Linked DNA regions of Homo sapiens: regions 1 and 2 are each linked to region 3. Evidence: fine-mapped expression QTL. A gene starts in region 3. Each other region holds a variant in brackets. All regions are shown on one strand. Distances are between the middles of the regions. Region 1 overlaps MCUB (mitochondrial calcium uniporter dominant negative subunit beta). Region 2 overlaps MCUB (mitochondrial calcium uniporter dominant negative subunit beta). Region 3 holds the start of MCUB (mitochondrial calcium uniporter dominant negative subunit beta).

Region 1 (8,000 bases), 120 kb before region 3:
CTAGTGCTGCCCTGCTCATATTATACTTATTTACAGAGACATTATGACTGATCTCTGGAGAGGAGGCATGGCATAGAGTTTAAGATGGCAGCTCTGAACACAGGCCACGTGAGCTCAAGTCCAGGCTCTACCATGTATTAGCGATACAGCTCTGTTGCTCAGTTTCCTCATCTGAAAAATGAGGAAGATAAAAGCACTGAACTTACAGGTTTTTTGTGAGGCGTAAAGGAGAAAATTAGCATATGGAAAGCATTCAGAAAAATGCTCACATGAGGAGCACTCAATAAACACTAGGTATTATTTTCAAATATACTCAACCGTGATGCTTCCTAACCTGTTCAAGGGGCTGCAGCTGTTCCTTCAGGTGGTCAATTTTCTCCAGTAAATGGTGCTCTCTCTTTTTCTGAGACTCTTCTAAATGCAAGATTGTAAATAGTCTGTGAACCAAAGATTTCATGTGTTCCATCTCAGCAGTGTGCTCATTACTTGGTTTTTCTGAGAAAAGACACAAGGGAAACAAGCCAGTCACCACATTGTTCCCGCAGGGTGTGTAAATCTTTCGGTCCCCAATTCTCTTTCCAAATATTATCTTAGGATCCACAGGGTAAGGAAGCTGGTGTACAAACATGTAAACAAAGGTGTAATATACATTTGAAAAGCAGTTCAAGTGTACTTTTCAACAAAGAGAGTCACAGTAAACAACAAAGTGTGGATCTGAAGAGCAGTTCATATACAAGGTAAAAAAAAAAAAAGTCACCAAAAAAATGACTTTGGCATAAGGATTATTTTCAGCTGAAGGCAATTGAGCATAAGCAGCTACAAGAAAGGCTCTCTGGCCTCTCCCTTTTTGCCCAAAAGCAGGACACAAATTTTACAAAGACCTCGTGAGAGACAGAACTAGCTGGATTTCCTAGGCCAACTAAGAATCCCTAAGCCTAGCTGGGAAGGTGACCGCATCCACCTTTAAACACGGGGCTTGCAACTTGGCTCACACCCAACCAGAGAACTCACTAAAATGCTAATTAGGCAAAAACAGGAGGTAAAGAAATAGCCGATCATCTATTGCCTGAGAGCACAGCGGGAAGGACAAGGATCGGGATATAAAACCAGGCATTCGAGCCAGCAATGGCAACCCCCTTTGGGTCCCCTCCCTTCGTATGGGAGCTCTGTTTTCACTCTATTTCACACTATTAAATCTTGAAACTGCACTCTTCTGGTTCGTGTTTGTTACTGCTCGAGCTGAGCTTTCGCTCACTGTCCACCACTGCTGTTTTGCCGCCGTAGCAGACTCGCTGCTGACTTACATTCTTCCGGATCCAGCAGGGTGTCCACTGTGCTCCTGATCCAGCGAGGCACCCCTTTGCCGCTCCAGATCGGGCTAAAGGCTTGCCATTTGTTCCTGCACGGCTAAGTGCCTGGGTTTGTCCTAATTGAGCTGAACACTAGTCACTGGGTTCCATGGTTGTCTTCCGTGACCCACGACTTCTAATAGAGCTGTAACACTGCATGGCCCAAGATTCCGTTCCTTAGAATCCGTGAGGCCAAGAACCCCAGGTCAGAGAACACGAGGCTTGCCATCATCTTGGAAGTGGCCCACGACCATCTTGGGAGTTCTGGGAGCAAGGACCCCCGGTAACACTCTCTACCAGAAAGAACAAAGGTAGATCGCCAGAGACAACTTTAGACCCTTTTCAGCTTGGAGACTGCACCAGAGGAATCTACAGACAAACTTTAGTAGCTTTTGACTACCTTTAACCAACTTATTTGCTTTTCCACAATTTGCTGACCCCAGAGACTCAAGGACCTTTTCCTTTGACTTGTCACAACTCTAAAAATGTATTATTCTTTGTAGAAGATGCTCTATCAGCTGAGGTTCAGAGCCACCTCTTTGAGAATTACTCATTCCTTGGATACCTCCCATGTGTCTATGGAATATACACATTAATAAACTACTGTTTGTTTTCTTCTTAGTAATCTCTCTTATCACAGGGGTCCATCCCAGCTAAGAACTAAGAGTAAAGGGAAAATTATTTTTCAACTCTTACAGGAGTTACGGTTTCAGAGTTTTTAATATAAAGTTCTCTTGATTATAGACTTCCCTCATCCCACCTCCTCCATGGGTTTATAAGTCCATATAAAATTAGGCTCTGCTATGAGAAGTCCCTCAGATTGATACCCTTCTGAGAGCTGTAATTGTTCATTATCACTGTTAAGAGAACCTGAGGGAGGACAAGGTGAGAGGAAGGGAAGATGGACCTTCCCACCAGGCAGCAGCAAACAACTGCAGACAAGAGAGACATATGTCTAGAGTTGGTATCAGCCCAGTAAGTTTTCCAGTTTGTGTCAGTAGTCCTGAAGTTATTTTTCTTCCATCACTACCCAATTCAAGACTGCTGTGGTCTTTACCCCCTTCCATAGTCTAGGCTATAGCTGCCACAGAGGGGTGAAAGCTAGGTGTTCTCTTTTAGGCTTTGAGATCTGTAGAAGAGTCAGAGTCCTTTTGTTAATGAAAAATGTATTGGTACATAAAACATATACATACAGAGAAAAGGCATAGATGGAAGATAGGCAAAGCTAGGCACTAAAACAGCAAGGGTAAATTTTATTAATAACTATTGCAATAGGGTCCAGCGTGAACTGAACTCAACTTCAATTTGTGCAGAGATGACTGTTTTAAAGAAAGAATGACAGAATGGGCAGGGTGAACAGCAGGGGCTTGAACAGAGTCAGGGAAATGAAAATTTACAAAAAGTGGATAGTTGGTTAATGTTACTGGGCCATCTGGGTTTGTTAACTGGTACCTATCCAGAAGAGAAATAAACTTCTCATACCTTATGACAGGATGCAAGTCAGAGCCAGGCACCCACGGGTTGGGAGTAAGAGCCAGAGTTATGTCCTTGAACGTTAACATTTCAAAGAGAGACTCCCAAGTCCTTGAGAAGACAGGTCTGGGTGATAAAAAATTTATACCCTCAGGCCAGGTGAGGTGGTTCACGCCTGTAATACCAGCACTTTGGGAGGCCAAGGTGGGTGGATCACCTGGGTTCAGGAGTTTGAGATCAGCCTGGCCAACAGGGTGAAACCCCGTCTCTACTAAAAATACAAAAATCAGCTGGGCATGGTGGTACACACCTGTAGTCCCAGCTACTCAGGAGGCTGAGGCAGGAGAATTGCTTGAACCCAGAAGGCAGAGGTTGCAGTGAGCCGAGATTGCACCACTGCACTCCAGCCTGGGTGACACAGAGAGACTCTGTCTCAAAAACAACAACAACAACAACAACAACAACAAAATTATACCTCAAAGCGGGAGAGAAAGTTCATAATTGCAAGCTTTCTAAAGTAACTGCTTGTCTGAGTCCACTAGTCCACTTTCTGCTTCTATAACACGATACCACAGACCCCATAATTTACAAAGAACAAAAATTTGTTTCCCCCTCTCCCACTCCCTCTCTACGGTCTCCCAGTCTCCCTCTCTTGCCGAGGCTGGACTGTACTGCCATGATCTCGGCTCGCTGCAACCTCCCTGCCTCGGCCTGCTGAGTGCCTGGGATTCCAGGCACGTGCTGCCACTCCTGACTGGTTTTTGTATTTTTGGTGGAGACGGGGTTTCGCCGTGTTGACCGGGCTGGTCTCCAGCTCCTGGCCTCAGGTGATCTGCCCGCCTCGGCCTCCCGAGGTGCTGGGATTGCAGACGGAGTCTCGCTCACTCAGTGCTCAATGTTGCCCAGGCTGGAGTGCAGTGGCGTGATCTCGGCTCACTACAACCTCCACCTCCCAGCCGCCTGCCTTGGCCTCCCAAAGTGCTAAGATTACAGCCTCTGCCTGGCCGCCACCCCGTCTAGGAAGTAAGGAGTGTCTCTGCCGGGCCACCCATCGTCTGGGATGTGAGGAG[T/C]GCCTCTGCCCAGCTGCCCCGTCTGGGAAGTGAGGAGCACCTCTGCCCGGCCATCCCGTCTGGGAGGAAGTGAGGAGTGCCTCTGCCCGGCTGCCCCTAATGGGAAGTGAGGAGCGCCTCTGCCTGGCTGCCCCATCTGGGAAGAGAGGAGCGCCTCTGCCCAGCTGCCACCCCATCTAGGAAGTGAGGACTGTCTCTGCCTGGCTGCCCCGAATGGGAAGTGAGGAGCGCCTCTGCCCGGCCACCCTGTCTGGGATGTGAGGAGCGCCTCTGCCCGGCCGCCACCCCGTCTGGGAAGTGGGGAGTGTCTCTGCCCGGCCGCCCCATCTGGGAGGAAGTGAGAGCGCCTCTGCCCAGCTGCCCCGTCTGGGAATTGAGGAGCGCCTCTGCCCGGCCACCCATCGTCTGGGAAGTGAGGAGCACCTCTGCCCGGCCGCCCCGTCTGGGATGTGGGGAGCGCCTCTGCTTGGCCACCACCCCGTCTGGGAAGTGGGGAGTGCCTCTGCCTGGCCGCCCCATCTGAGAGGTGAGGAGCGCCTCTGCCCGGCCGCCACCCCGTCTGGGAGGTGAGGAGTGCCTCTGCCTGGCCGCCACCCTGTCTGGGAGGTGAGGAGCTCCTCTGCCCGGCCGCCCCGTCTGGGATGTGAGGAGCGCCTCTGCCCGGCCACCGCCCCATCTGGGAAATGGGGAGCGCCTCTGCCCGGCCGCCCCGTCTGGGAGGTGAGGAGCGTCTCTGCCCGCCCGCCCATCATCTGGGAAGTGAGGAGCGCCTCTGCCTGGCCGCCCCGTGTGGGAAGTGAGGAGCGCCTCTGCCCGGCCGCCCCACCTGGGAGGTGTACCCAACAGCTCCGAAGAGACAGCGACCATCGAGAACAGGCCATGATGATGATGGCGGTTTTGTCGAATAGAAAAGGGGGAAATGTGGGGAAAAGAAAGAGAGATCAGATTGTTACTGTGTCTGTGCAGAAAGAAGTAGACATAGGAGACTCCATTTTGTTCTGTACTAAGAAAAATTCTTCTGCCTTGGGATGCTGTTAATCTATAACCTTACCCCCAACCCCGTGCTCTCTGAAACATGTGCTGTGTCAACTCAGGGTTAAATGGATTAAGGGCGGTGCAAGATGTGCTTTGTTAAACAGATGCCTGAAGGCAGCATACTCGTTAAGAGTCATCACCACTCCCTAATCTCAAGTACCCAGGGACACAAACACTGCAGAAGGCCGCAGGGACCTCTGCCTAGGAAAACCAGAGACCTTTGTTCACGTGTTTATCTGCTGACCTTCTCTCCACTATTATCCTATGACCCTGCCACATCCCCCTCTCCGAGAAACACCCAAGAATGATCAATAAAAACTAAAAAAAAAAAAAAAAAAAAAAAAAAATTTGTTTCCTTATAAGGAACAGAAATTTGTTAGTGGAGGCTGGGAAATCCAAGATCAATGCACCAGCATCTGACAAGGGCCTTCTTGCTGCATCATAATGTAGCAGAAAGCATTACGTGGGTGAGAGAGAGCAAGCAGGGGCTGAACTTGTCCTTTATTAAGGAACCCACTGCCAAGATAACACACTCCCATGATAACGACATTAATCCACTCACGTTGGTCCTCATGACCTAAACACCTCTAAAATGTCCCACTTCCCAACAGCTTTGCATTAGGGATCAAGTTTCTAACACATGAATTTTGAGGGACACATTCAAACCATAGCATTCTGCCCCGGCCCCTCAAATTCATGTCCTTTTCCCACACAAAATACATTCACTCCATCCCAAGAGCCCCAAGCATCTACTCAAAAGTCCAATTCCAAAGTCTCATCTAAATCAGATATGGGCAAGAATCTAGGCATGATTCATCCTGAAGCAAATTATCCTCCAGCTGTGAGTCTGAAATCAAACTCACAGCTGGAGTTTGTACTTCCAAAATACAATGGCTGGATAGGTATGGGATAGATATTTCCACTGCAAAAGGGAGAAATAGGAAAAAAGAGGTAACTGGTCCCACGTAAGTCCAAAACCCAACAGGGTAGTAAACAACATTAAATCTTAAAACTTCAGAACAATCTTTGAATTCATATGCCACCTTGTGGATACACTAAGGCAGGGGTTAGGTCCTCAAAATCTTGGGCAGTCCTGCCCCCATGGCTTTGCTGGGCTCAGCCCAGGCAGTAGCTCTTATGGGTTGAGGTTTCATGCCTGCAGCTCTCCCAGGATGCTGCTGCACACTGGTAGCTCTAAAGTTCTGGATTCTCAAGGGGCAGCTGTGAATTTTCCAAATATTTTACATTCTGCCTCATTTTTAATTGTGAATTCTGTCTTTAAATCTATTCTCCTCTCATTTTACTGTATGCAGTTAAAGAAACCATGCAGATTCTTCAATATTTTGCTTAGAATTTTCTTCTGCCAGGTAAATTAGTTTGTCACTCTTAAATTCTGCCTTCCATAAAGTCCTTGGATATGAAAACAATTCTTTGTAACTGCCCAGTCTTGTGCTATTCTGCTATTGCAGCAGAAAACAGATTAAGACAGAAAATTGGTACTAGGAGCAGAGTTACTGCTATAACAAATACCTGAAAAGGTAGAAGTGGCTTTGGAATTTGGTAATGGGCAAAGGCTGGAAGAGTTTGGAAGAGCAGACTAGAAAAAGCCTGTATTGTCATGAACAGAGTATTAAGGGCAATTCTGGTGAGGGCTCAGAAGTTCTTTGCAAGTCCATAACAATAATGGTGTTTATTCCAGCTTCCAGTAAGATATTCCTCATTTCAAAGAGCTTATCAGATTGGCCTTTACCATATACATATTTTTGGATTTTTAGTAGAGACAAGGTTTCACTATGTTGGCCACACTGGTCTCAAACTCCTGACCTCAAGTGATCCACCCGCCTCAGCCTCCTAAAGTGCCGGGATTATAGGTGCGAGTCACCACACCCAGCCTACCATCGATATTTCTACAAACATTCTGATCATGACCACTTAAGTAAATCTCTAAAAACTTTTAGACTTCCTACAGCTATTCTCTTCCGAGCCCTGACCAGAATTGTCCTTAACACTCTGTTCATGGCAATATAGGCTTTTTCTAGTCTGCTCTTCCAAACTCTTCCAGCCTTTGCCCATTACCAAATTCCAAAGCCACTTCCACCTTTTCAGATGTTTCTTATAGCCCCACTTCTGGTACCAATTTTCTGTCTTAATCTGTTTTCTGCTGCAATAGCAGAATATCACAGACTGGGCAACTTAGGAAGAACAACATTTTATTTCCTCACAGTTCTGGAGTCTGGGAAGTCCAAGACCAAGGTGTTGGCATATTTGGTGAGACCCTTCTTGCTGCATCATCCCATGGCAAAAGGGAGGCAGAGAGAAAGCAAGTGTTTATGCACAACAGCACAAGAAGGGGCCAAACTCATCCTTTTATAAGGAACCTACTGCCAAGATAACCTCTCCAGTGAAAATGGCATTCATCTATTCATTAGGGCAGTGCCCCCATGAGCCAAACACCTCCCAATACGCCTCACATCCCAACACCACAACACTGGGGATCAAGTTTCCAACACATCAACTTTGGGAAACATACTCAAAGTACAGCACTGCTCTAAAGATGAGGTTGTATGGCTTATTGACCTATCACCAGGTTTTGGCTGGAATAAACAGTAAATTTTCCAGAGGGTACTGAGCTTTCTCAGACAGACATTCTAAAAGAACCAGAGTTGTCATCCAAATGATGTGGCCTTGAGCTATGAGAAACTATGCAAATGTTGGTTCAACTCTCTTAGTGTGTGTGGTGTGAGGGGGGCAGTGTTGACAAAATCTGTGCTGAGAGTTTACAGTTTTTATAGGCCATGGTTAACGCCTAGTTGAGAAGAGGGTTCCGAGGAACCTGACTGAAGTTTAGTCAAGGTGAGAGTCTTTGTCAAGTGGCACGAAATGTTTATCTGAGTTCAACAATGAATGCCCTTGGCTCTGCTCTTTCAGAAGCATGGGCACCACAGAATTCATGTTACACCACCAACCTAAACTGACTCATAACATTTGTCTGTGGCATTTCCTAATAAAGGCCAAAAATGAGAGAGAATTATTCTTTTCCTTTTCTTTTTTTTCTTTTTGACATGGGTCACTT
Region 2 (8,000 bases), 100 kb before region 3:
TGGATGTGTATTTTCAAATCCCGGCCTGACATTCATTTGGTTACATTCAACCCGAGCTATTTTAGCTATATTAATATGTGTGATGACAGGACTAACACTAGTAACATCCCGAAGAAACTGGCTGCTGCCTCTTGTCTGCCTCCCTATAGTTCTTTTGTTCTGGAAGACTGCAAATCAAGTCTGCACCTGTGTCTGTTCCTAGAATTTGGCTGTTTGGGTTGCTGTTCATCAGTTGCAGTGAGATCATTTTCCAAAAAATTGCCAAATAATTCAACCCACACAATGGGCAAAACTGTGACAAGCTTAGAACACTCTTTTCAAGCCCAAATTAAATGCAGGCAAATTCCACCCACAGAGTCTTTTAAAAAGAAGAAAAAAAAAATCAGCAACACACCAATCGCTTTATCTTTCCAAGTGTCATTTAAAAATTTACATGTAAATGACTTCAAACCAGCTCCTTAAAATCTTACTAAAAAAGACATACACTGAATATGATTTCTCAGTTGAAATACTATATTATCCTTTATACAAAGGTATGAATAGCAAAAGACTGACGTGAAACATTTTTAAGCACTAGTGATACAGTGTTAAATTTTTCATGTATTCTTGGGTATCAATTTAAACCCCCGATAGGGTGTTTGCACTCAGTCCAAAGAGTCCCTTTTCTCTAAGACTTCTATTCTCTTTCTTTGTGCTTTCTGTTTCAAAGCTACTAACTTTATTTTTAGAAATAAGCAGGATAAACATCTATCATTTTAACCTCTCTTATTTCATTCACTTCAATACTAATTGAGTACACACCACCAGGCAAGTGCTGCTCAGTGCAGGCCCTTCTGACTTCCAGGTTTGGGTCTGCCTGCCCCTAGAAGCTTAGAAAGAGGGCCCTGCCCCTGTGGAAAACGCCCATGGACATTCCAGTGTTCCTGTGCCTGGGGGAAATGTCTGTCTAGTTCAAGGATGAAATATTAGGAAGCCCATTGTGCCATAGGGCTAAAACCTTATTCTCTGATCCAGGTTTTAGCAGGAAGAAACGTCCCTTCCAGCTAAATCTATAGTCCTAACAACAACCTACAATAAGCCTTTCCTGATCTGCCCTTCCCCACCTCTCAGAACTCCTCCTTTCTCCCAGCTCCCTCCTTTGCGGTCACTGTGTAGTAGGCTCCCACCTCAATGCAGTCTCACTCTATCACTCAGGCTGGAGTGCAGTGGTGCCATCTCGGACCACAGCAACCTCCGCCTCCCATGTTCAAGCGATTCTCCTGCTTCAGCCTCCTGAGTAGCTGGGATTACAGGTATGCAACACTACACCTGGCTAATTTTTGTATTATTAGTAGAGAAGGGGTTTTGCTATGTTGGCCAGGCTGGTTTCAAACCCCTGACCTCAGGTGATCCACCCACCTCGGCCTCCCAAAGTGCTGGGATTACAGGTGTGAGCCACCGCATGCGGCCCAGAGCTCTCTTCCCTCTACGTGACTCCCTCCCTCATTTCCCCCAGGTCTTTGTGCAAATGTAATCTTATCAAGCCCACCCCTGCCCACACACATCTTCCACACTCTGCTTTATTTTTCTTCGTAACACTTATTATTTAACATAATACATAATTTATCTTGTTTTTTTCTCCTCCTAAATATAAGCTCCATAAGGGCAGGAGTTTTTATCCCTTTTGTTCTCTGCACTACCTCTAGCGTATAGAACAGTGCCTGACATACATTAGGTGCTCAATAAATATTTGTTGAATGAATCAATTAATCTCCATTTTCCAACTTCTCTATCTTTTAATTAATTTGGAACTTGGATAGGGAAAAAGTCTGTTTATTTCCCTTTCAAAACTGCAACAGTAATCATGAACCTAAATAACTTTATTCTAAGTATTTAATATCATAATGAAATAATGCAAATTTATTAATTTATCTATATTTGCAGCTGCTATGTAGTGGGATAGGGTAAATAATTCTTTATTCTATTTAGAAGCAGTTGGTCTAAGACCATTTCAGACTATGAGAACATGAAAGCTGTATTCTAAATTTTAAATGTCTAAGTGATGACATACTTCTGGTTTTTTAAAAAATGTATATTCTTCCTAAGAACTAATTCTGCCAAAAAACATACTAGACTGTAATTGCTTTATAACAGTGGTGAACAAATTTTTTGTGTACTTTAATTATTCACTGGCTTATTTTAATAATTAAAACTGCATTTTGTTTTCTAATTATTCAAATTTTGCTGAGAATTGCACGCTAATGCCTGTGCCACTAAGATTTTCTCATGAAAAACCTTTAAGGCTAAGTTTATAAAATAAGTAACTGAAATTTACATTAAATTTATTCCATTAATTTTTCATTCAATGAAGTTAAATTTTTTTTTTTTTTAATTTTCTTTTCTTGGGATGGAGTTTCACTCCTGTTGCCCAGACTGGAGTGCAATGGCGTGATCTCGGCTCACTGCAACCTCTGCCTCCTGGGTTCAAGCAATTCTCCTGCCTCAGCCTCCCAAGTAGCTGGGATTACAGGTATGTACCACCACGGGTGGCTAATTTTGTGTTTTTAGTAGAGACGGGGTTTCTCCATGTTGGTCGGGCTGGTCTCGAACTCCTGACCTCAGGTGATCCGCCTGACTCGGCCTCCCAAAAGTGCTGGGATTACAGGTGTGAGCCACCACGCCAGGCCAAAACAGTTTTTAAAATAGTGTTGATGCATAAAAATGAAAGAATAAAGACCAACCATTTATTATCTAATGAATTAAACAATGTACTTCTAGAAAAGTAAAGAACCAAACAAAAGTTCAGGAGAGACAGAAACCCTGGGACAAAGTTGTAAAATTATATACATATATACCTGCTGTGAAGATGGCTGCAGTTTTGATACCCTTATCTTCATTTTGTAGGTCCTGAAGGAATGAACCAACTGTTGACAACATTGGTTTGACTACGAATTGACAACGTTCTTTTCTAGATGGCAAGGTAAGTGTTACCAAGGGAAGGCCATGTCTATAAATAACTGTTATTTCTGTTAAGGAAAAAAAGAAAAAAAAATGAGTAAATTTTACTTTAAAAAAAACCATAAATACAAGAATTCTAGAAGGAATGCTCAAACATGAAATTCACAAACCTCTGAAGTCTTATAAAAATTTGTATTGCTCCAATAATGCCTTCATTATACTACAGTTTACATATTCCCTACCATTCTATAACATTTTAGTGTAGCACATACCACACTTTATTATCTGCTTAAAGTCTTCCCAGGTGGCCGGCATGGTGGCTCATGCCTGTAATCCCAGCACTTTGGGAGGCTCAGATTGGTGGACTGCCTGAGCGCAGAAGTTTGAGAGCTCTCTGGGCAACATGGCGAAACCCCATCTCTACAAAATATACGAAAATTAAGTCTGGCATGGTGGTGTGCGCCTGTAGTTGCAGCTACTTAAGAGGCTGAGCTGGGACGATGGCTTCAGCCTGGGAAGCAGAAGTTGCAGTGAGCCGAGATCGTGCCACTGCACTCCAGCCTGAGTGACACAGCTAGACCCTGATTAAATGAAAAAGAAAAAAAGTCTTCTCAGGTAAACACTTAAGTTCTAGTTTTCTTGAGGACAGAAACTATTTGTTTTTTTTTCTTTCTTTTTGAGACAGGGTCTCACTCTGTTGCCCAAACTGGAGTGGCACGATCATGGCTCACTGCAGCCTCTACCTCCTGGGCTCAAGCAATCTTCCCACCTCAATCTCTTGGGTAGCTGGGACTACAGGCATGTGCCATCACACCTGGCTAATTTTTGTATTTTTTGTAGAGATGGGGTTTTGCTTTGTTGGCCAGGTTGGTCCCAAACTCCTGAGCTGAAGTGATCCGCCTGCCGTGGCTTCCCAAAGTGCTGGGATTACAGGCCACCACACCCACCCGACTATTGCTTATCATCTCTGACTCCTCTGATT[C/GC]TGAGGTGGGAATTTGACAAAAGACAGCAGCTATATTATGGGAGCACAAAAAGGTGGAAGTGAACCCAATCAGGGTGGGGTGGGATGGGGATAGTGTAAGAAAAGTCTATTCTGCTCAAAACTCTCGCAGCTCTTTATTTGGAAGAAAGGGAAACAATTAACATATGAATCAAATAAATGGTAAGAAAGCTTACCATCAGGTGGCACCACGGTACTATAATGGTGTGACTGGTAGTATTTCACATTTCCACACAGCTTCACACGCAAAACCTACAAGAAGGAAAAATTAATTTGTTTTTTTAAAAAAAGAGTGGGAAAGATGAAATAAGTGTCTTTATTTTACCATAAGATTCTTTTTAATACTATATGAAAAGCATAATGAAAAACTCAACTTGTCATGCATCCCAGGGTGAGCCCTTGGCAAGCTCACTGAACCTTCCTGGCTATATGCTTGCCTGCTACTATGTATGCTGTAGCAGTAGCACACCAGGACGGGATCCCTAAATTGGGGTATGAGGCCCCCTGAAAATCCTAGAGTTCTGTGAGAATTTTTACTTTCAGTATTTCCTTTCAGGTAATAATCTAAAACAAATGGACATAAGTATATCTAGTCTAGAGACATGCTTCTCAATATGTGGTCCCCAGACCAGGAGCATCTTGGGGCTAATTAAAAATGCAGAATCGGGCCGGGCATGGTGGCTCACGCATGTAATTCCAGGACTTTGGGAGGCCAAGGTGGGCGAATCACCTGAGGTCAGGAGTTCGCGACCAGCCTGACCAACATGGAGAAACCCTGTCTCCACTAAAAATACAAAATTAGCCAGGTATGGTGGCACATGCCTGTAATCCCAGCTACTCGCGAGGCTGAGGCAGGAGAATCACTTGAACCCGGGAGGTGGAGTTTGCCGTGAGCCAAGATCCCATCATTGCACTCCAGCCTGGGTAACAAGAGCAAAACTCTGTCTTAAAAAAAAAAAAATGCAGAATCACAGATTCAGACCAGATGTACTGAATTCCAGTCTGCATTTTAACAAGATCCTCAGAAGATTCACATGCACATTAGAGTCTGAAAAACACTGCTCTAGATCTGTGCTGTCCGATATGGTAGACACTTGTTAAATGTGGTTATTTAAATTAGTTAAAATTATGTACGGGTGGGACACGATGGCTCACGCCTGTAATCCTAGCACTATGGGAGGCCGAAGCAGGAGGATTGCTTGAGCTCAGGAGTTCAAGGCCAGCCTGGCCGACACAGTGAGACCCTGTCTCCTATAAACAGCAACCACAAAAAAATTATGTACACAAACATTCAGAACCTCAGTCACCTTTGCCACATTTCAAGGGCTCAAAAGCTCCCTATGCCTAATGGCTATCTCACTGAAAAGCAAAAGCGCAGGAATAGCATATTTCTATCATCACAGAAAGTTCTATTGGACAGCAGTGCTGAGTCTACAACATCTGAATGGCCACCTCACCACGGAACATGTTTTGGGGGCTTGCATTGGTGTTTGTGTTTACACAATTGCACTGGTGCTTAATGAAGACCGAATAATATCATGGTGCACTGTGTGAACAAAGATATTGTGGGAGTAGAAAGAACAGGCATTGGGGAATTGGTTCACAGGCATTTGGAACTCAAAAGGACTTGTACCAGAGAAATTAGTACCAAAGTCACAACACGGTGGCTGTAACATACTGATCCAGATTTTTTAATGCATCACCTTACAGTAGTTTATTAACAATAAGTTTGCCAGTAATTGTGCAAAGAATAATTCTTTTATAAACTGCATTTTTAAATTTTTCAGGATTTGAGGGTACACTATTAAAATAATAAATCAGTGGTTAAAAGTGTGTTCGCTGTTTCAAAAAATAAAGATGACACTGACCCAAATGAAGGTCCATTATGTTCAAAATTAAAAGAACCTCATCAATAAGTAAAACAAAACATTCAAATACATATTTTAGTATTAAACACAACATAGGCAATAAATGTCAACACAACATCATCTTTTACATTAAGACTGTTCATTTGAGCTTTCTATTTTTTTTTTTTTTTTTTTTTGAGATGGAATATTGCTCTGTTGCCCAGGCTGGAGTGCAGTGATGCAGTTTCAACTCACTGCAACCTCCACCTCCTGGGTTCAAGTGATTCTCCTGCTTCAGCCTCCCAAGTAGCTGGGGTTATAGGCACCTGCCACCATGCCTGGCTAATTTTTTGTATTTTTAGTAGAGATGGGGTTTCACCAAGTTGGCCAGGCTGGTCTCAAACTCCTGAACTTGTGATCAGCCTGCCTCGGCCTCCCGAAGCGCTGGGATTACAGGCGTGACCCACCACACCCGGCCTGAGCATTATTTCTAAAAATGTAGCTCACTACTAAGATGAGAAGAAAAAGGCAGATGATGTCTTAAAATAGATGCAACTCTCAATAAATAAATATAGGTAGAAGTTCTCCAAGTGTGGATAATGGATATTACAATACCGTCTACTACTTTTAGCAAAACTACATAAAAATGAGACACATCAGAATTCTCTATCAAAATTCTTCTATAAAAATAATGAGACAGATAATTTTCTGTGCATAAAAGTCAAATACACGAAGGTAGGGAGTAGGCCAGGCGTGATGGCTCCTGCCTATAATCCCAGCACTTTGGGAGGCTGAGGCAGACGGATTGCTTGAGCCCAGAAGTTTGAGCCCAGGTAACATGGTGAAACCCTGTCTCTACAAAAATTACAGAAAAAGTCTGGCATGGTGGCACATGCCTGTAGTCCTGGCTACTTGGGAGGCTGAGGCAGGAGGATTGCTTGAGCCCAGGAGGAGGCGGCTGCAGTGAACCGAGATTGTAGCTACTGCACTTCAGCCTGGGCCACAGAGGGAAACCCTGTCTCCAAAAAAAAAAAAAAAAAAAAAAAAAAAAAAAAAAAAAAGTAGAGAGTAAAAGTTAGAGCCCCTCCCTTTACTTCTCTATAATCCTGGAAGTCTCCCCAGAGGTAACCACTGCCAGTGGTTTGGCATGTATCCTTCCAGATTTTTTTCTACACGTTACCTACCAAATTCTATGCTAGAGTCCGTATAATGCTAAAGACATATGAGTCAGGTTCCTAAATGCCATTGGTGATAATGCCTGTGAGAATCCAGGAATCCAGTTGGAGGCAATATAAAATGATTACAAAGTATCATTTAATATACTGATAAAGTTGCAGGTGTACTACTGAAGAAGTAACTGTAGCACCCACAAGATAGAGGCACCCACATGACAACCAGAAGATGCTGAAAGAAGGCAGAGTGGCCTGAGAAAAACAGCAGGGCTTTCTCAAGCTTTTGCTTGCCTAATAATCACCTGGAAGCCTTAAAAACACAGATTCCCAGACCCCATACACAGAGATTTTTAATCTAAAAGGTCAGTTTGTGAGGATTTGCATTTTTAATAAGCTCCAGAGGTAAACTGAAGTTTCAAGGGTGAGAACCACACTGTGAGAAGCTGGGCTTTAGCCAACCTCCCCACAACCCCCACCACCACACACACACACCCCCTGCTGCCCCAGGCTTCGTGGCAACATGCTAGATTTCTGCGTAGAATCATTCCGAATTCCAAATTTTAGTGCCTGGTCAAGCGTTACTGCCTTTAAATGGAATTTGCTATCAGGGCAAAAGATGATTTGGGCTTCTCTTTAACCATGAAGCATTTTTTGTTCCTGACCACAGAGCTCCTGAATCCCTTGGAATTTCACGAGCGATTGAAGTTTCTGTGGTTTTAACAAGGTAACTCTTGGTGGGATGCTAGATGGCTTCAGGATGGGGCTGGTTGCTAGAAAGATCAAACCTTGATTAAAAGCCTAGAATGTTCAGTCCCATCTTCCCAGCCTCCAGGAAGGGGACAGAGGCTGGAGACTGAGTTAATAAAATCCATTATGCCCACATGATGAAACCTCCATGAAAGTCCCTAAACAATGAGGTTCAGCGAATTTTCAGGTTGGTGAATGCAACCACGTGTTGGGAGGGTGACATAATCCAACTTCATGAGACAGAAGCTTCTGGGCTTGGGACCTCCCAACAGTGAAAACTATGTTCACACAAACTGT
Region 3 (10,527 bases):
AGTTAGTTTTATAGAATAGAATACAATGTACCAACTGCAAATACAAGAGATAGAATAGTAGGAACATGTCAAACAAGAACGATATGTTCATTAAATTAAAAAGATGAAAACAATTTCTAAGTTGACATCTTGTGGTGGAATTTAAACATCCATATGCTTTGTTTCTAGAAGTTAAAAAAAGCATACTCGATACTTAAGCTGCTCTGCAGAGTGCTTGATGTAAAAATTTTTTAAACATAGCTTATGTATGGACTCAAATGCTGTACTGGGGACATGAAATCGTATCAGGGAGTTTCTCAGTCTAAGTAGCACAAAATCCAAATTAAGAAAGGCACATTTAGGCAAGGGCTTTCTGTTCAGATGTAACTCACCAAGCACCACAATTACTCAAAGCTGAGTCTTTGTGCACAGAAACATCAGCAGGAGCCATGGATTGCCCTGACAACCACTCAGCTAGAGTGCTGACAAGCAGAGATGCTGCCACCAGAGCGTGATTATGGCCACCAGGCCATGCCTTGCCCAAAGATGAATACAATATGCTCTTGCTCTACTACGCTTCAGACTAAATGTGTTCTTTAAAAAACAATTCTGTATATCCATGTCAACAAACTGTTTTTTTTTCCCCTCACCCAGAAAACACTAGCAGACAATTGCTCACATACAATATGAAGTATGAGAATTGTGTATTTTTCAAAGTTATTAAATGCTCCTATAAGGCACACTCATAGAAGTGTGAAAGACTTCAGAAAGACCAATTATAGTTGGGAACGCTTATTTGAAATACTGCTTACGACAAGTCCTTGCAAGCTAAGATTTTATGAGCTGTCAGGTCACAAACTACTTGTTTTTCTAGCTGCTTCATAGGCTCTAGGGGTCTGAATGTTTCTGGGAAAAAAAATAAATAGAAATAATACTTGCCTTTACCCACAGGATATTTCATAACAAGTGGGAAAGCCACAAAAGAGTGATATCTTAGAATGAAAAATGTCCCGATAGCCAGGTAATTTGATTAGCAGAAAATGGTTTAGTAGTCCTAGCTAAAACTCCTCAAGAGCCAGAATATTTTTATCGGTTTACTCATGGTAAAATGTAAAAGCTGTATATAAAGAACAGCATTTCCACTTCTCAAGTTCTGAAAATTGTCTTTATAGCTGGACAGTTGGCTTAAAACAAAAATTTGCAAATTAGAAACATTCAAACATAACGCTTCTTACGATGATTCCTAACTACTGTTTCCCTGTTATTAGGCCTAATAAGCCCGATGGTACCATTTTCTTTTAAAAGGGTATCCACATTCCTGCTGAGGTATGCAATGGCACCACCCTAGACAGCATCAGATGGGAAATATGGAGAAAAGGATTTGCAGGTGATAATTTGAGAAAGGGCAGCCAGTCCCGGGATCCACAAAAATGCTACTCAACGTGTTAAATGGACTTAATAGAAAACACTTGGGGCTGGTCGCGGTGGCTCACCCCTGTAATCCCAGCACTTTGCGGGGCTGAGACGGGCGGATCACAACGTCAGGAGTTCGAGACCAGCCAGTCTGGCCAACATGGTGAAACCCCGTCTCTACTAAAAATACAAAAATTAGCCGGGTGCGGTGGCGCGCGCCGGTCATCCTATTTTCTGGGGAGGCTGAGGTAGGAGAATCGCTTGAACCCAGGAGGCGGAAGTTGCAGTGAGCCGAGATCGCACAACTGCACTCCAGCCTGGGTAACAGAGCAAGACTCCGTCTCCAAAAACAACAACAAAAAACAATAATCTGTGTTTAAAATGGCATGTGAAAGGGGTTCCTCGTATTGGGTTGTTTTAATGTTTGGTATCTCTTTGACTACACAATGCAACACTTACAGTAAAAGTACAACCTTTAAAAGTATAAAAAGCCCATCTCCCCAATGACTTTATAAGTCTACCATTTTACATTTTAAGGAGTTTGCCCCTGTTCTTACATTTAGTAACAACATGGCCTTCCTCATTCTCTTTCAAACATTCCTGGAATTGATTTTCTGAATGCACTTAATCCTTTGGTCACAAGCTCAATGAAAAGGAAAAAAAAATGCACTTAAATATTCCCTGCATCAATTGAAACTGAAGCCCTCAGACAGCTGGAGGAAAAGGGGGGGAAGGAAAAAAAAGAACAAAATAAACAGGAAGTGAAAGTGACAAGAGAATCACACTGCTTACTTTTTGGCTTTTAAGCCTTTAACAATCTGAAAGTAATCTTAACAGTGTGGGGGAGGAACAAACGAAAACTCAGAAACAGCTCCCTCCCCAACCACACACACCCTGAAGGCTTTGGCTGTCTTTCCTCATCTGGGTCAGAGTTTGCACTCCCGGGCTCCTGTCAGGCTCCATCGCAATCCTCCTTAAACTCAGCGCTTTCCCCTTCTTCTAGTCTTTTTTGGTGCACATCCACTCTCTACTCCTCCAAGCCACGGTTCTCCACAGACCACAATACAACGGTGTCAGGCCAACTGTTACTCACCAGCACACTCATGATTCACCCGTCTCTCGGGTGTCTGAACAAAACGCGAGTTTTTCTTCCTTCTGGGAAAGGGAGGTGCTCGCAGATTTCAGGATGGAAATTTCACTCTCCTGCGACCGTCCACACCCGGGACGGTCACTGCCCCGTTCATCGTTTCCGGGCTCCTTAGGGGCTCGGGCACTGATCACCAAGAGGGAACCGGCCCCGCGGCGCAGCGGCTTTGGAAACTTGCTCCTGACCGAGAGCTGCAGCCCAGAAACTGCCTCCCAGGTTATTCTGCTGCTCCCAGGCCGAAGTCTGGTGGTCCCCGCACCCTATCTCGGCCCGGGTGAGGCACCCCCAGCCGCAGCGCTCTGGCTTCACCTTCCCCGGGCCCGGAGTCTTGACCTCAGCCCAGGCCTCCGTGACCCACGTCGGCCGCCCGGCCACCACCTGTCGGGACCGCCCGGCGCGCGGAGCCCGGCAGCCAGCAAAACGCAGTTGACTGCTCGGCCGCTCGGCTTTTGCTCCCGCCAAAGTTGTCCAACGCAAACTTTGCACCAGCCTACCCCGAACCCCCACAGCCCGGCACCCGCTCTTACCTGGGGCGGAGGCGGCAGCGGCCACGGGCGCGCTGGGCGCCAGGTGCCAGGGGTCGGCAGCAGCCGCGTGCGCCACGGCCAGAGGCCCCTCTGGAGCATCCTCCCGCCCCAGGCGCGCGGCTCCCGCAGGCGTCAGCGGCGCATCCTCCCTCAGCCGGGCTCCTCGTCAGCGCCTGGTGGCTCCGAGCTGTGGGCGCTCCCGCCCCGCCTGCTCGCTCAGCGCGCCGCGGCTCCAGCTTGGGCGGGCTCACGGGAGGGTGTGTCCCTGTTTCCACTTGTCGGCTCTCTACGCATCCGGGCGCAGGGCTGTTTTCTTTCCTCCGACCAAAAAAAAAAAAAAAAAAGAGAGCGAGAGAGCGGGAGCCCGAGAGCGGGAGCCCGAGGTCGAGGGCCCCCTCCTTCTCCAGCAGAAGACCCTCTGGAATGAACAGCAGCAGGCGACGCACACCTTGCGAGCTCTAGATTTCAAAACTCGCTGTTAATTCCCGGTGCTGCGTGCTCTGAGCGCCGTCTTCGCCATCCAACCCAGACGGGGATGAGACGAAAACAGCGTCCGGCATCTGGAGGGGGCAGGGCCGCTCAGGAAGTTTGTTTTCCCCACCGAGCTTGGAGAAGACGGATTGAAGCGGGTCGGCCGAGGCCTCTCCCACCTCCACAACCTCCAAGGCCTCTGCCCCGGGCTGCGGTGCCGGGCCCCTGCTCGCTGGCGAGTGCGGTGTGAGGCGGGCAGCCCGGGCCTACCCCTGCGGAGGTTTGTAGTTCACGGTATAGGGGCCCAAACCCGAGTTTTTTGGGAAAGTATCTCCCACAGAATTGGCTTCTCTTTTGAAGCACGTTTTTAATTGAAGAAGCTTCGGAACCGGTATTGAGTTCTTCTAACTACTGGGAAATCGGATGCTTTGTTTTGAGACTACTTATTTTTGAAAGCAAACCAAAGGCATTAAAGAGCAACCTAAACCAATTACAGTAGGGTTGTTAGATAAAATATAGGATGCCCAGTTAAACTTGAATTTTAGATACAAATAGTGAAGTATGTCCCAAATATTGCATGGGTCACATTTATTATTTTAAAAATGAAATATCTGGGATATACTAAATTATTTGGTGTTTATCTGAATTCAAATTTAACTGGGCACTCCGCATTTTTATCTCCTGAATCTGCAAGAGGGTTCAGTTAATGAATCAAAATTGGCAAACCTGCAATAAGTGGCAAATCACTCCTGGCGGTAATCTCCTTTCCTTATTGAAAAGGGAAAGAATCACAAGTTTCTACTATAGTAAAAACTTTATCACTATTAAAGGCTGATTCACCTGTGTTAACTAGCATGTCTTTCAAAATACAGTTGCCCCAGATGGAGAGTGACACATGAAACTTTAAGTTCATATGGGAAGGTAAATTACCTTACCTGAATCTTTTCCTCCTATTAGCTAGTGCTCCAAGTGAAAGAAGCGTGTATTTTTGTTTTTTTGTTGTGAAGGGTTCTTGTTTAATACAACTGAAAAGAATGCCTATACAAAGAATTGACATGAAAAAGCATTGATTCAACACTCATGAGCTAGGTTCTGAAAGGTGTAAAAAAATTACCTGAACATTTTTAGAAATTGGAAACTACAACTAAAACTGATAAAAATCCCTATTAACATTTGTGAAGAATCTTGATAATGTGTCCTGAATTGGTGGGTTCTTGGTCTCACTGACTTCAAGAATGAAGCCGCGGACCCTGGTGGTGAGTGTTACAGTTCTTAAAGGTAGCGTGTCCGGAGTTTGTTCTTTCTGATGTTCGGACATGTTTGGAGTTTCTTCCTCCTGGTGGGTTCAGTGGTTTCGCTGGCTTCAGGAGTGAAGCTGCAGACCTTGGCAGTGAGTGTTACAGCTCTTAAGGTGGCGCGTCCGGAGTTGTTCATTCCTCCCAGTGGGTTCGGGTCTCACTGGCCTCAGAAATGAAGCTGCAAACCTTCACGGTGAGTGTTACAGATCATAAAGGCAGTGCAGACCCAAAGAGTGAGCAGCAGCAAGATTTATTGCAAACAACAAAAGAACAAAGCTTCTAGAGCGTGGCACGGGACCCAGACAGGTTGCCACTGCTGGCTCTGGCAGCCTGCTTTTATTCCCCCATCTGGCCCCACCCACATCCTGCTGATTGGTCCATTTTACAGAGCGCTGATTGGTCCGTTTTGACAGGGTGCTGATTGATGTGTCTACAATCCCTGAGCTAGATACAGAGTGCTGATTGGTGTATTTACAATCCTTTAACTGGATATAAAGGTTCCCCAAGTCCCCACTAGATTAGCTAGACACGGAGCACTGATTGGTGCATTTACAAACCTTGAGCTAGACACAGGGTGCTGATTGGTGTGTTTACAATCCTTTAGCTAGACATAAAGGTTCTCCAAGTCCCCAGGAGATTAGCTAGATACAGAGTGCTGATTGGTGCATCCACGAACCCTGAGCTAGACACAGAGCACTGATTGGTGCATTTACAAACCTTTAGCTAGACAGAGTGCTGATTGGTGCATTTACAATCCTCTAACTAGACATAAAAGTTCTCCAAGTCCCCACCCCTCTCAGGAGCCCAGTTGGCTTCCCCTAGTGGATGCCATGCCAGGGTTGCGGGCTGAGCTGCTTGCCAGTCCTGCGCTCGTGCCTCGTGCCTGCACTCAGCAGCCCTTGGGCAGTCAATGGGACTGGACGCCGCTGAGGCAGGGGCGGTGCCCCTCAGGGAGGCTAGGGCCTAGCAGAAGCCCACCGCGGGGGGACTTGCACATGGCGGGCTGCAGATCCGAGCCCTGCCCCATGGGGAGGTGGCTGAGGCCTGGTGAGAATTTGAGCGTGGCGCGGGCCGGCTGGCAGTGCTGGGGGACCTGACGCCCCCCTCTGCAGCTGCTGGCCCAGGTGCTAAGCCCTTCACTGCCCGGGCCGGGGGTGCCGGCCGCCCTCCGAGTGCGGGGCCACGGAGCCCACGCCCACCCGGAACTCGCGCTGTCCCGCAAGGCCACATGCAGCCCCGGTTCCCACCCGCGTCTCTCCCTCAACCTCCCTGCAAGCAGAGGGAGCTGGTACCAGCTTCCGCAAGCCTGGAGAGGGGCTCCCACAGTGCAGCAGCGGGCTGAAGGGCTCCTCAAGCATGGCCAGAGCGGACTCTGAGGCCAAGGAGGCGCTGAGAGCCAGCGAGGGCCGCCAGCACATTGTCACCTTTCAATAAGATTCTTTACACAATTTTTATTAAACCAGAGAGCCAGCCAGGCGTGGTGGCTCATGCCTGTAATCCCAGCACTTTGGGAGGCCAAGACGGGCGGATCACAAGATCAGGAGTTCAAGACCAGCCTGGCCAACATTGGTGAAACCCTGTCTCTACTAAGAATACAAAAATTAGCCGGGCGTGGTGGAACGTGCCTGTAGTCCTGGCTACTCGGGAGGCTAAGGGAGGAGAATTGCTTGACCCCGGGGAGGCAGAGGTTGCAGTGAGCCGAGGTTGTGCCACTACACTCCAGCCTGGGCGACAGAGCAAGACTCCATCTCAAAAAAAAAAACAAACCAGAGAGCCTCATTTGGGGGCTCTTGGGTTCCTCGTCTGCTACACAGAAGTGAGGAGATTCCCCTGACTGATCTCATGTTGTTAAGTGTTCTATCCATCCCCACCACACCCCAACTTCTTCATGAAGCAGGTCTCCATCCTTATAACTTGAGAGGCTGTGAATCATTCCATAGATGTCGGTCTTCTGCTACCGCTCTTCACATTGCCTCTACATACCAGGTCTTCAGCTGCATTCTAGAAACATCATATACTATTGATTGCAAATCTATAATAATATAAGACAATGACTGACAGGGAAAAAAGTTTTTTTAAGTTACAAACTCAATCCACTTGTTGCATTTCAAAGGTGCAATACTTTTCTTTATTCATCAGTTAAAGAAGTTAGAAATTAACTTCCCCAAAAATCAGCAACCGGCAAACAAATTTCCTTGAAAGTCACAGTCACATATTTAGTGCATCCCAGAAAAGAACAGGGGCAAGAGAATTTTCACCCACTTTCATGAGTTTCATCAAATACTGAGCCTACTCAAGGGTGGAGAGAAAAGGTAACTTTCAAAAAGAGGTATGTTATTAAATAAGGCATTTACTATATTCTTTCCTAAAAGCACCCCAGATAGGGAACATGTTTTTTAAACTAGATTTAGGAAGTCGAATATGGAGTCAATCCGTCCTTCTCCTCTTAAGGACTGACCACTGGTTAATGAATTAAAAAAGAGAAAAGAAAAGAAAAGAAAAAAGACTAAAAAACAAACCCTACAAACACTCCTCCTCCAAAAAAGAAAAAAATAAAACCCCACTAAGATGTCCCAGATTACCCTCCAGAATGGACCCAGGGAGCAGCTTCAACAATTCCAATTAGTCTGTTACACAGTCATCACAAGCATGCCTTGCTTTTAAGTAAAAACAAAATTGTTTTTTGAAACAAAAACCAAAAATGAGTACTGATCACTTTTCTAACAATACACAATTACTCAGAATTAACTAGTATTGGGAGGGAGAAGTGGGCCATACCTCTAATCCCTGTCTCACATGGATGCATGTGGGTTGGTGCAGGGTATTTGTCATTATTGCATAAATGAATTTTAATTTTTAATCTTTTGTTTGATTTAAACATTGCTTTTAGTATGATGCCTACACCAGCTGTGCAGAAAGGGCTCTGGAGAGATGTTCATAGCAGCATAGGCTTCCAGCTCTTCTTCAGTTCTGGAGGCTCCAGGACAGCCAATATTGCTTTGTCAAATCCATTCTTTAGATCTTGCTGTGTGGGTACAGGACCGTCCATATACTTGACAGCCTTCAGGTTGTGGGCCGGCTTTTCAGCAGTCTCTGGAGTGATAGGCTTCTATTTGTTCTTGGTAATTTTCTCAATAATAGACCCTCTGAGATCAATTTGGGTTGTGACAAGCAAGAAAGGAGCCTTTGGACAGTGGTGAGTTATCTCAGGCCCTCACTTTTCTTTCATACTTTAAAATGAACATGGAGAGACCACTGAGAAACAGACTAGAAATATATCTGTGTAGATAACTCAGGAGTTATAGTCTGTCATAATCTTCTTGCCCTGCAGAATTAAAAGTCTAAGAGTATATGGCTCTGCACCAGTCCTAACTGTGAGTGCATAGTTGTCAAAAACAGTCTGTATCTATTAGGATGGAAATTTGTTGTGTAGGATATCAGGAGACATGTTTTACCAACAACTGCATTGACCACAACAATGCAACTAATTGTCTGCATTGCTGAAATAGTTTTGTATCCACTTTAAATATTTGAAATCTGATGTTGACCTCAGTTCTCCAGAAAAGAGTCTTATTAGGAAGGAGGGGAATGGAGAAGAGGGGGAGGAGATGTCCGTTTTGCAGCACAGAATCTGGCCACAAAGGTGGGATTAGCAAACTCCTGTGGGAGAAGCTCCGGACACTGCAGACAGAGCGGGTTTACCGGGGAGGCACTGTCCACAAAGTCGCTCGGCACACATAGATGTTTCGGGTGCACAACAAACTTTCCCACAGTATATAGGACTCTTGATGAGACAAAACGATTACTCAATGTGAGCTAGTTCATAAGTATTACTTATATGTCACAGCCTTTTCACATTCGAATCTCTGATCTCGCTTTTCAAAAAAAAAAAAACTTTGTAAACAGCTCTATTAAGGTATGATCTACATATCGTAACTTTCATTTATTAAAAGTTATTTTTGGCAAATTTACAGAGTTGTGCAACAGTCACCACAATCAATTAGAACATTTCCATCACTCTAGAAAGATTCCTCAGGCTCATTTGCCTCACTCTCCATTCTTACCTCCAGCCCCAGGCAACTACTAATCTACTTTCTGTCTCTCTAGGAAGCAAAGAGCAAGCTGAGCTGGAGATACATTTACTTTGGGTTTAGTGGGATATTTTTGTGTGGTTCATGGTCATTTCTATGTATTGTTAAGATATTGCTAGCCATGCCCACGTAGGAATGGCTTCCAGGAATACTCCTGTTATCCATTGGGCCTCCCACTTTGATAGAATTTTAATGGTAAATAGAGAAGGATATTCCTTTCCCTATTCTGTCTCCAGGTCCTGGACCTCCATTGCTAATAGAGTATTAAAGAACTCTGTACCCAAATGAGAGTACACATTATTTCAAACACATATGGATGATTCACAATGTAATGCCCACATGGTGGGCCTCAAAGGGAATCTCAAAAATGACCTTAAACTTGCTAACATATAAGCTATGTTCATGAAATTAAATATAAGAAATTGGAGTTTTCTGCCTGAGCAAGGAGACTGGTGGTCTGGTTCTTGGGCTTCCCTAGCAGCCTGGCCCCCAAATGCCAGTCTTCCCTCCTGTCTCGAAAGAAGACACCAAGACCACCTCCTGTTCTGAGACCAGAGGAGACTTCGGCCTCTGTAGGCTTGCCAAAGAAGGGCGAAAAAGAACAGCAAGAAGCAATTGAACACATTGATGAAATACAAAATGAAATAGACAGACTTAATGAACAAGACAATGAGGAGATTTTGAAAGTAGAACAGAAATATAACAAACTCCGCCAACCATTTTTTCAGAAGAGGTCAGAATTGATCTCTAAAATCCTAAATTTGGGGGTAACAACATTTGGCAATCATTTACAAGTGTCTGCACTGCTTGGGAAGGAAAACGAAGAGACATTGCATTATTTGACCAGAGTTGAAGTGACAGAATTTGAAGATATTAAATCAGGTTACAGAGTAGATTTTTATTTTGATGAAAATCCTTACTTTGAAAATAAAGTTCTCTCCAAAGAATTTCATCTGAATGAGAGTGGTAATCCATCTTCAAAATCCACTGAAATCAAATGGAAATCTGGAAAGGATGTGACGAAACGTTTAAGTCAAATGCAGAATAAAGCCAGCAGGAAGAGGCAGCATGAGGCACCAGAGAGCTTCTTGACCTGGTTTACTGACCATTCTGATGCAGGGGCCGATGACTTAGGAGAGGACATCAAAGATGATATTTGGCCAAACCCATTACAGTACTACTTGGTTCCCCATATGGATGATGAAGAAGGAGAAGATGATAATGAGGAGGAGGAGGAAGGATTAGAAGACACTGATGAAGAAGGGGATGAAGATGAAGGTGAAGAAGATGATGATGAAGGGGAGGAAGGAGAGAAGGATGAAAGAGATGACTAATAGAATACTGATGGATTCCAACCTTCCCCTTTTTAAATTTTCTCCAGTCCCTGGGAGCAAGTTGTAGTCTGTTTTATTTTGTTTTGTTTTTGCCTCCTGTGCTCAGTCGCCCTATTCTTGAGGTCTCTTTTCTCTACACTTAATTGGGGGAAATATCTTGAGCAGACTACATTGAGAAAAGAGTCTCTACCCCTTTCTGTTCGAAATTCATTTTTATCCCTTCCTGTCTGAATAAAAACTGTATGGAATCAACACCACCAAGTTCTG

The links. PIP is the estimated chance that this variant, and not a neighbour inherited with it, causes the effect.
Region 1: its variant is fine-mapped to the expression of MCUB in whole blood (INTERVAL, PIP above 0.99).
Region 2: its variant is fine-mapped to the expression of MCUB in whole blood (INTERVAL, PIP above 0.99).

Annotation. Positions count from the first base shown.
Region 1 is chr4:109,675,077-109,683,076 of GRCh38, reverse strand. MCUB (mitochondrial calcium uniporter dominant negative subunit beta) reads right to left here. Exons shown (of 8, transcript NM_017918.5): 5 at 335-495. It also overlaps a transcript of CASP6 not described here. Among named protein-coding and RNA genes, the nearest start is that of CASP6, 24 kb to the left of the region's middle. The variant T/C (reference allele first, on the strand shown) is at 3,893.
Region 2 is chr4:109,655,200-109,663,199 of GRCh38, reverse strand. MCUB (mitochondrial calcium uniporter dominant negative subunit beta) reads right to left here. Exons shown (of 8, transcript NM_017918.5): 2 at 4,114-4,189; 3 at 2,835-3,005. Among named protein-coding and RNA genes, the nearest start is that of CASP6, 44 kb to the left of the region's middle. The variant C/GC (reference allele first, on the strand shown) is at 3,920.
Region 3 is chr4:109,552,976-109,563,502 of GRCh38, reverse strand. MCUB (mitochondrial calcium uniporter dominant negative subunit beta) reads right to left here and starts at 3,257. Exons shown (of 8, transcript NM_017918.5): 1 at 3,067-3,257. The coding sequence starts at 3,165. It also overlaps the pseudogene SETP20 and the pseudogene CDC42P4. RefSeq lists an enhancer at 2,371-2,570 and a silencer at 2,991-3,310.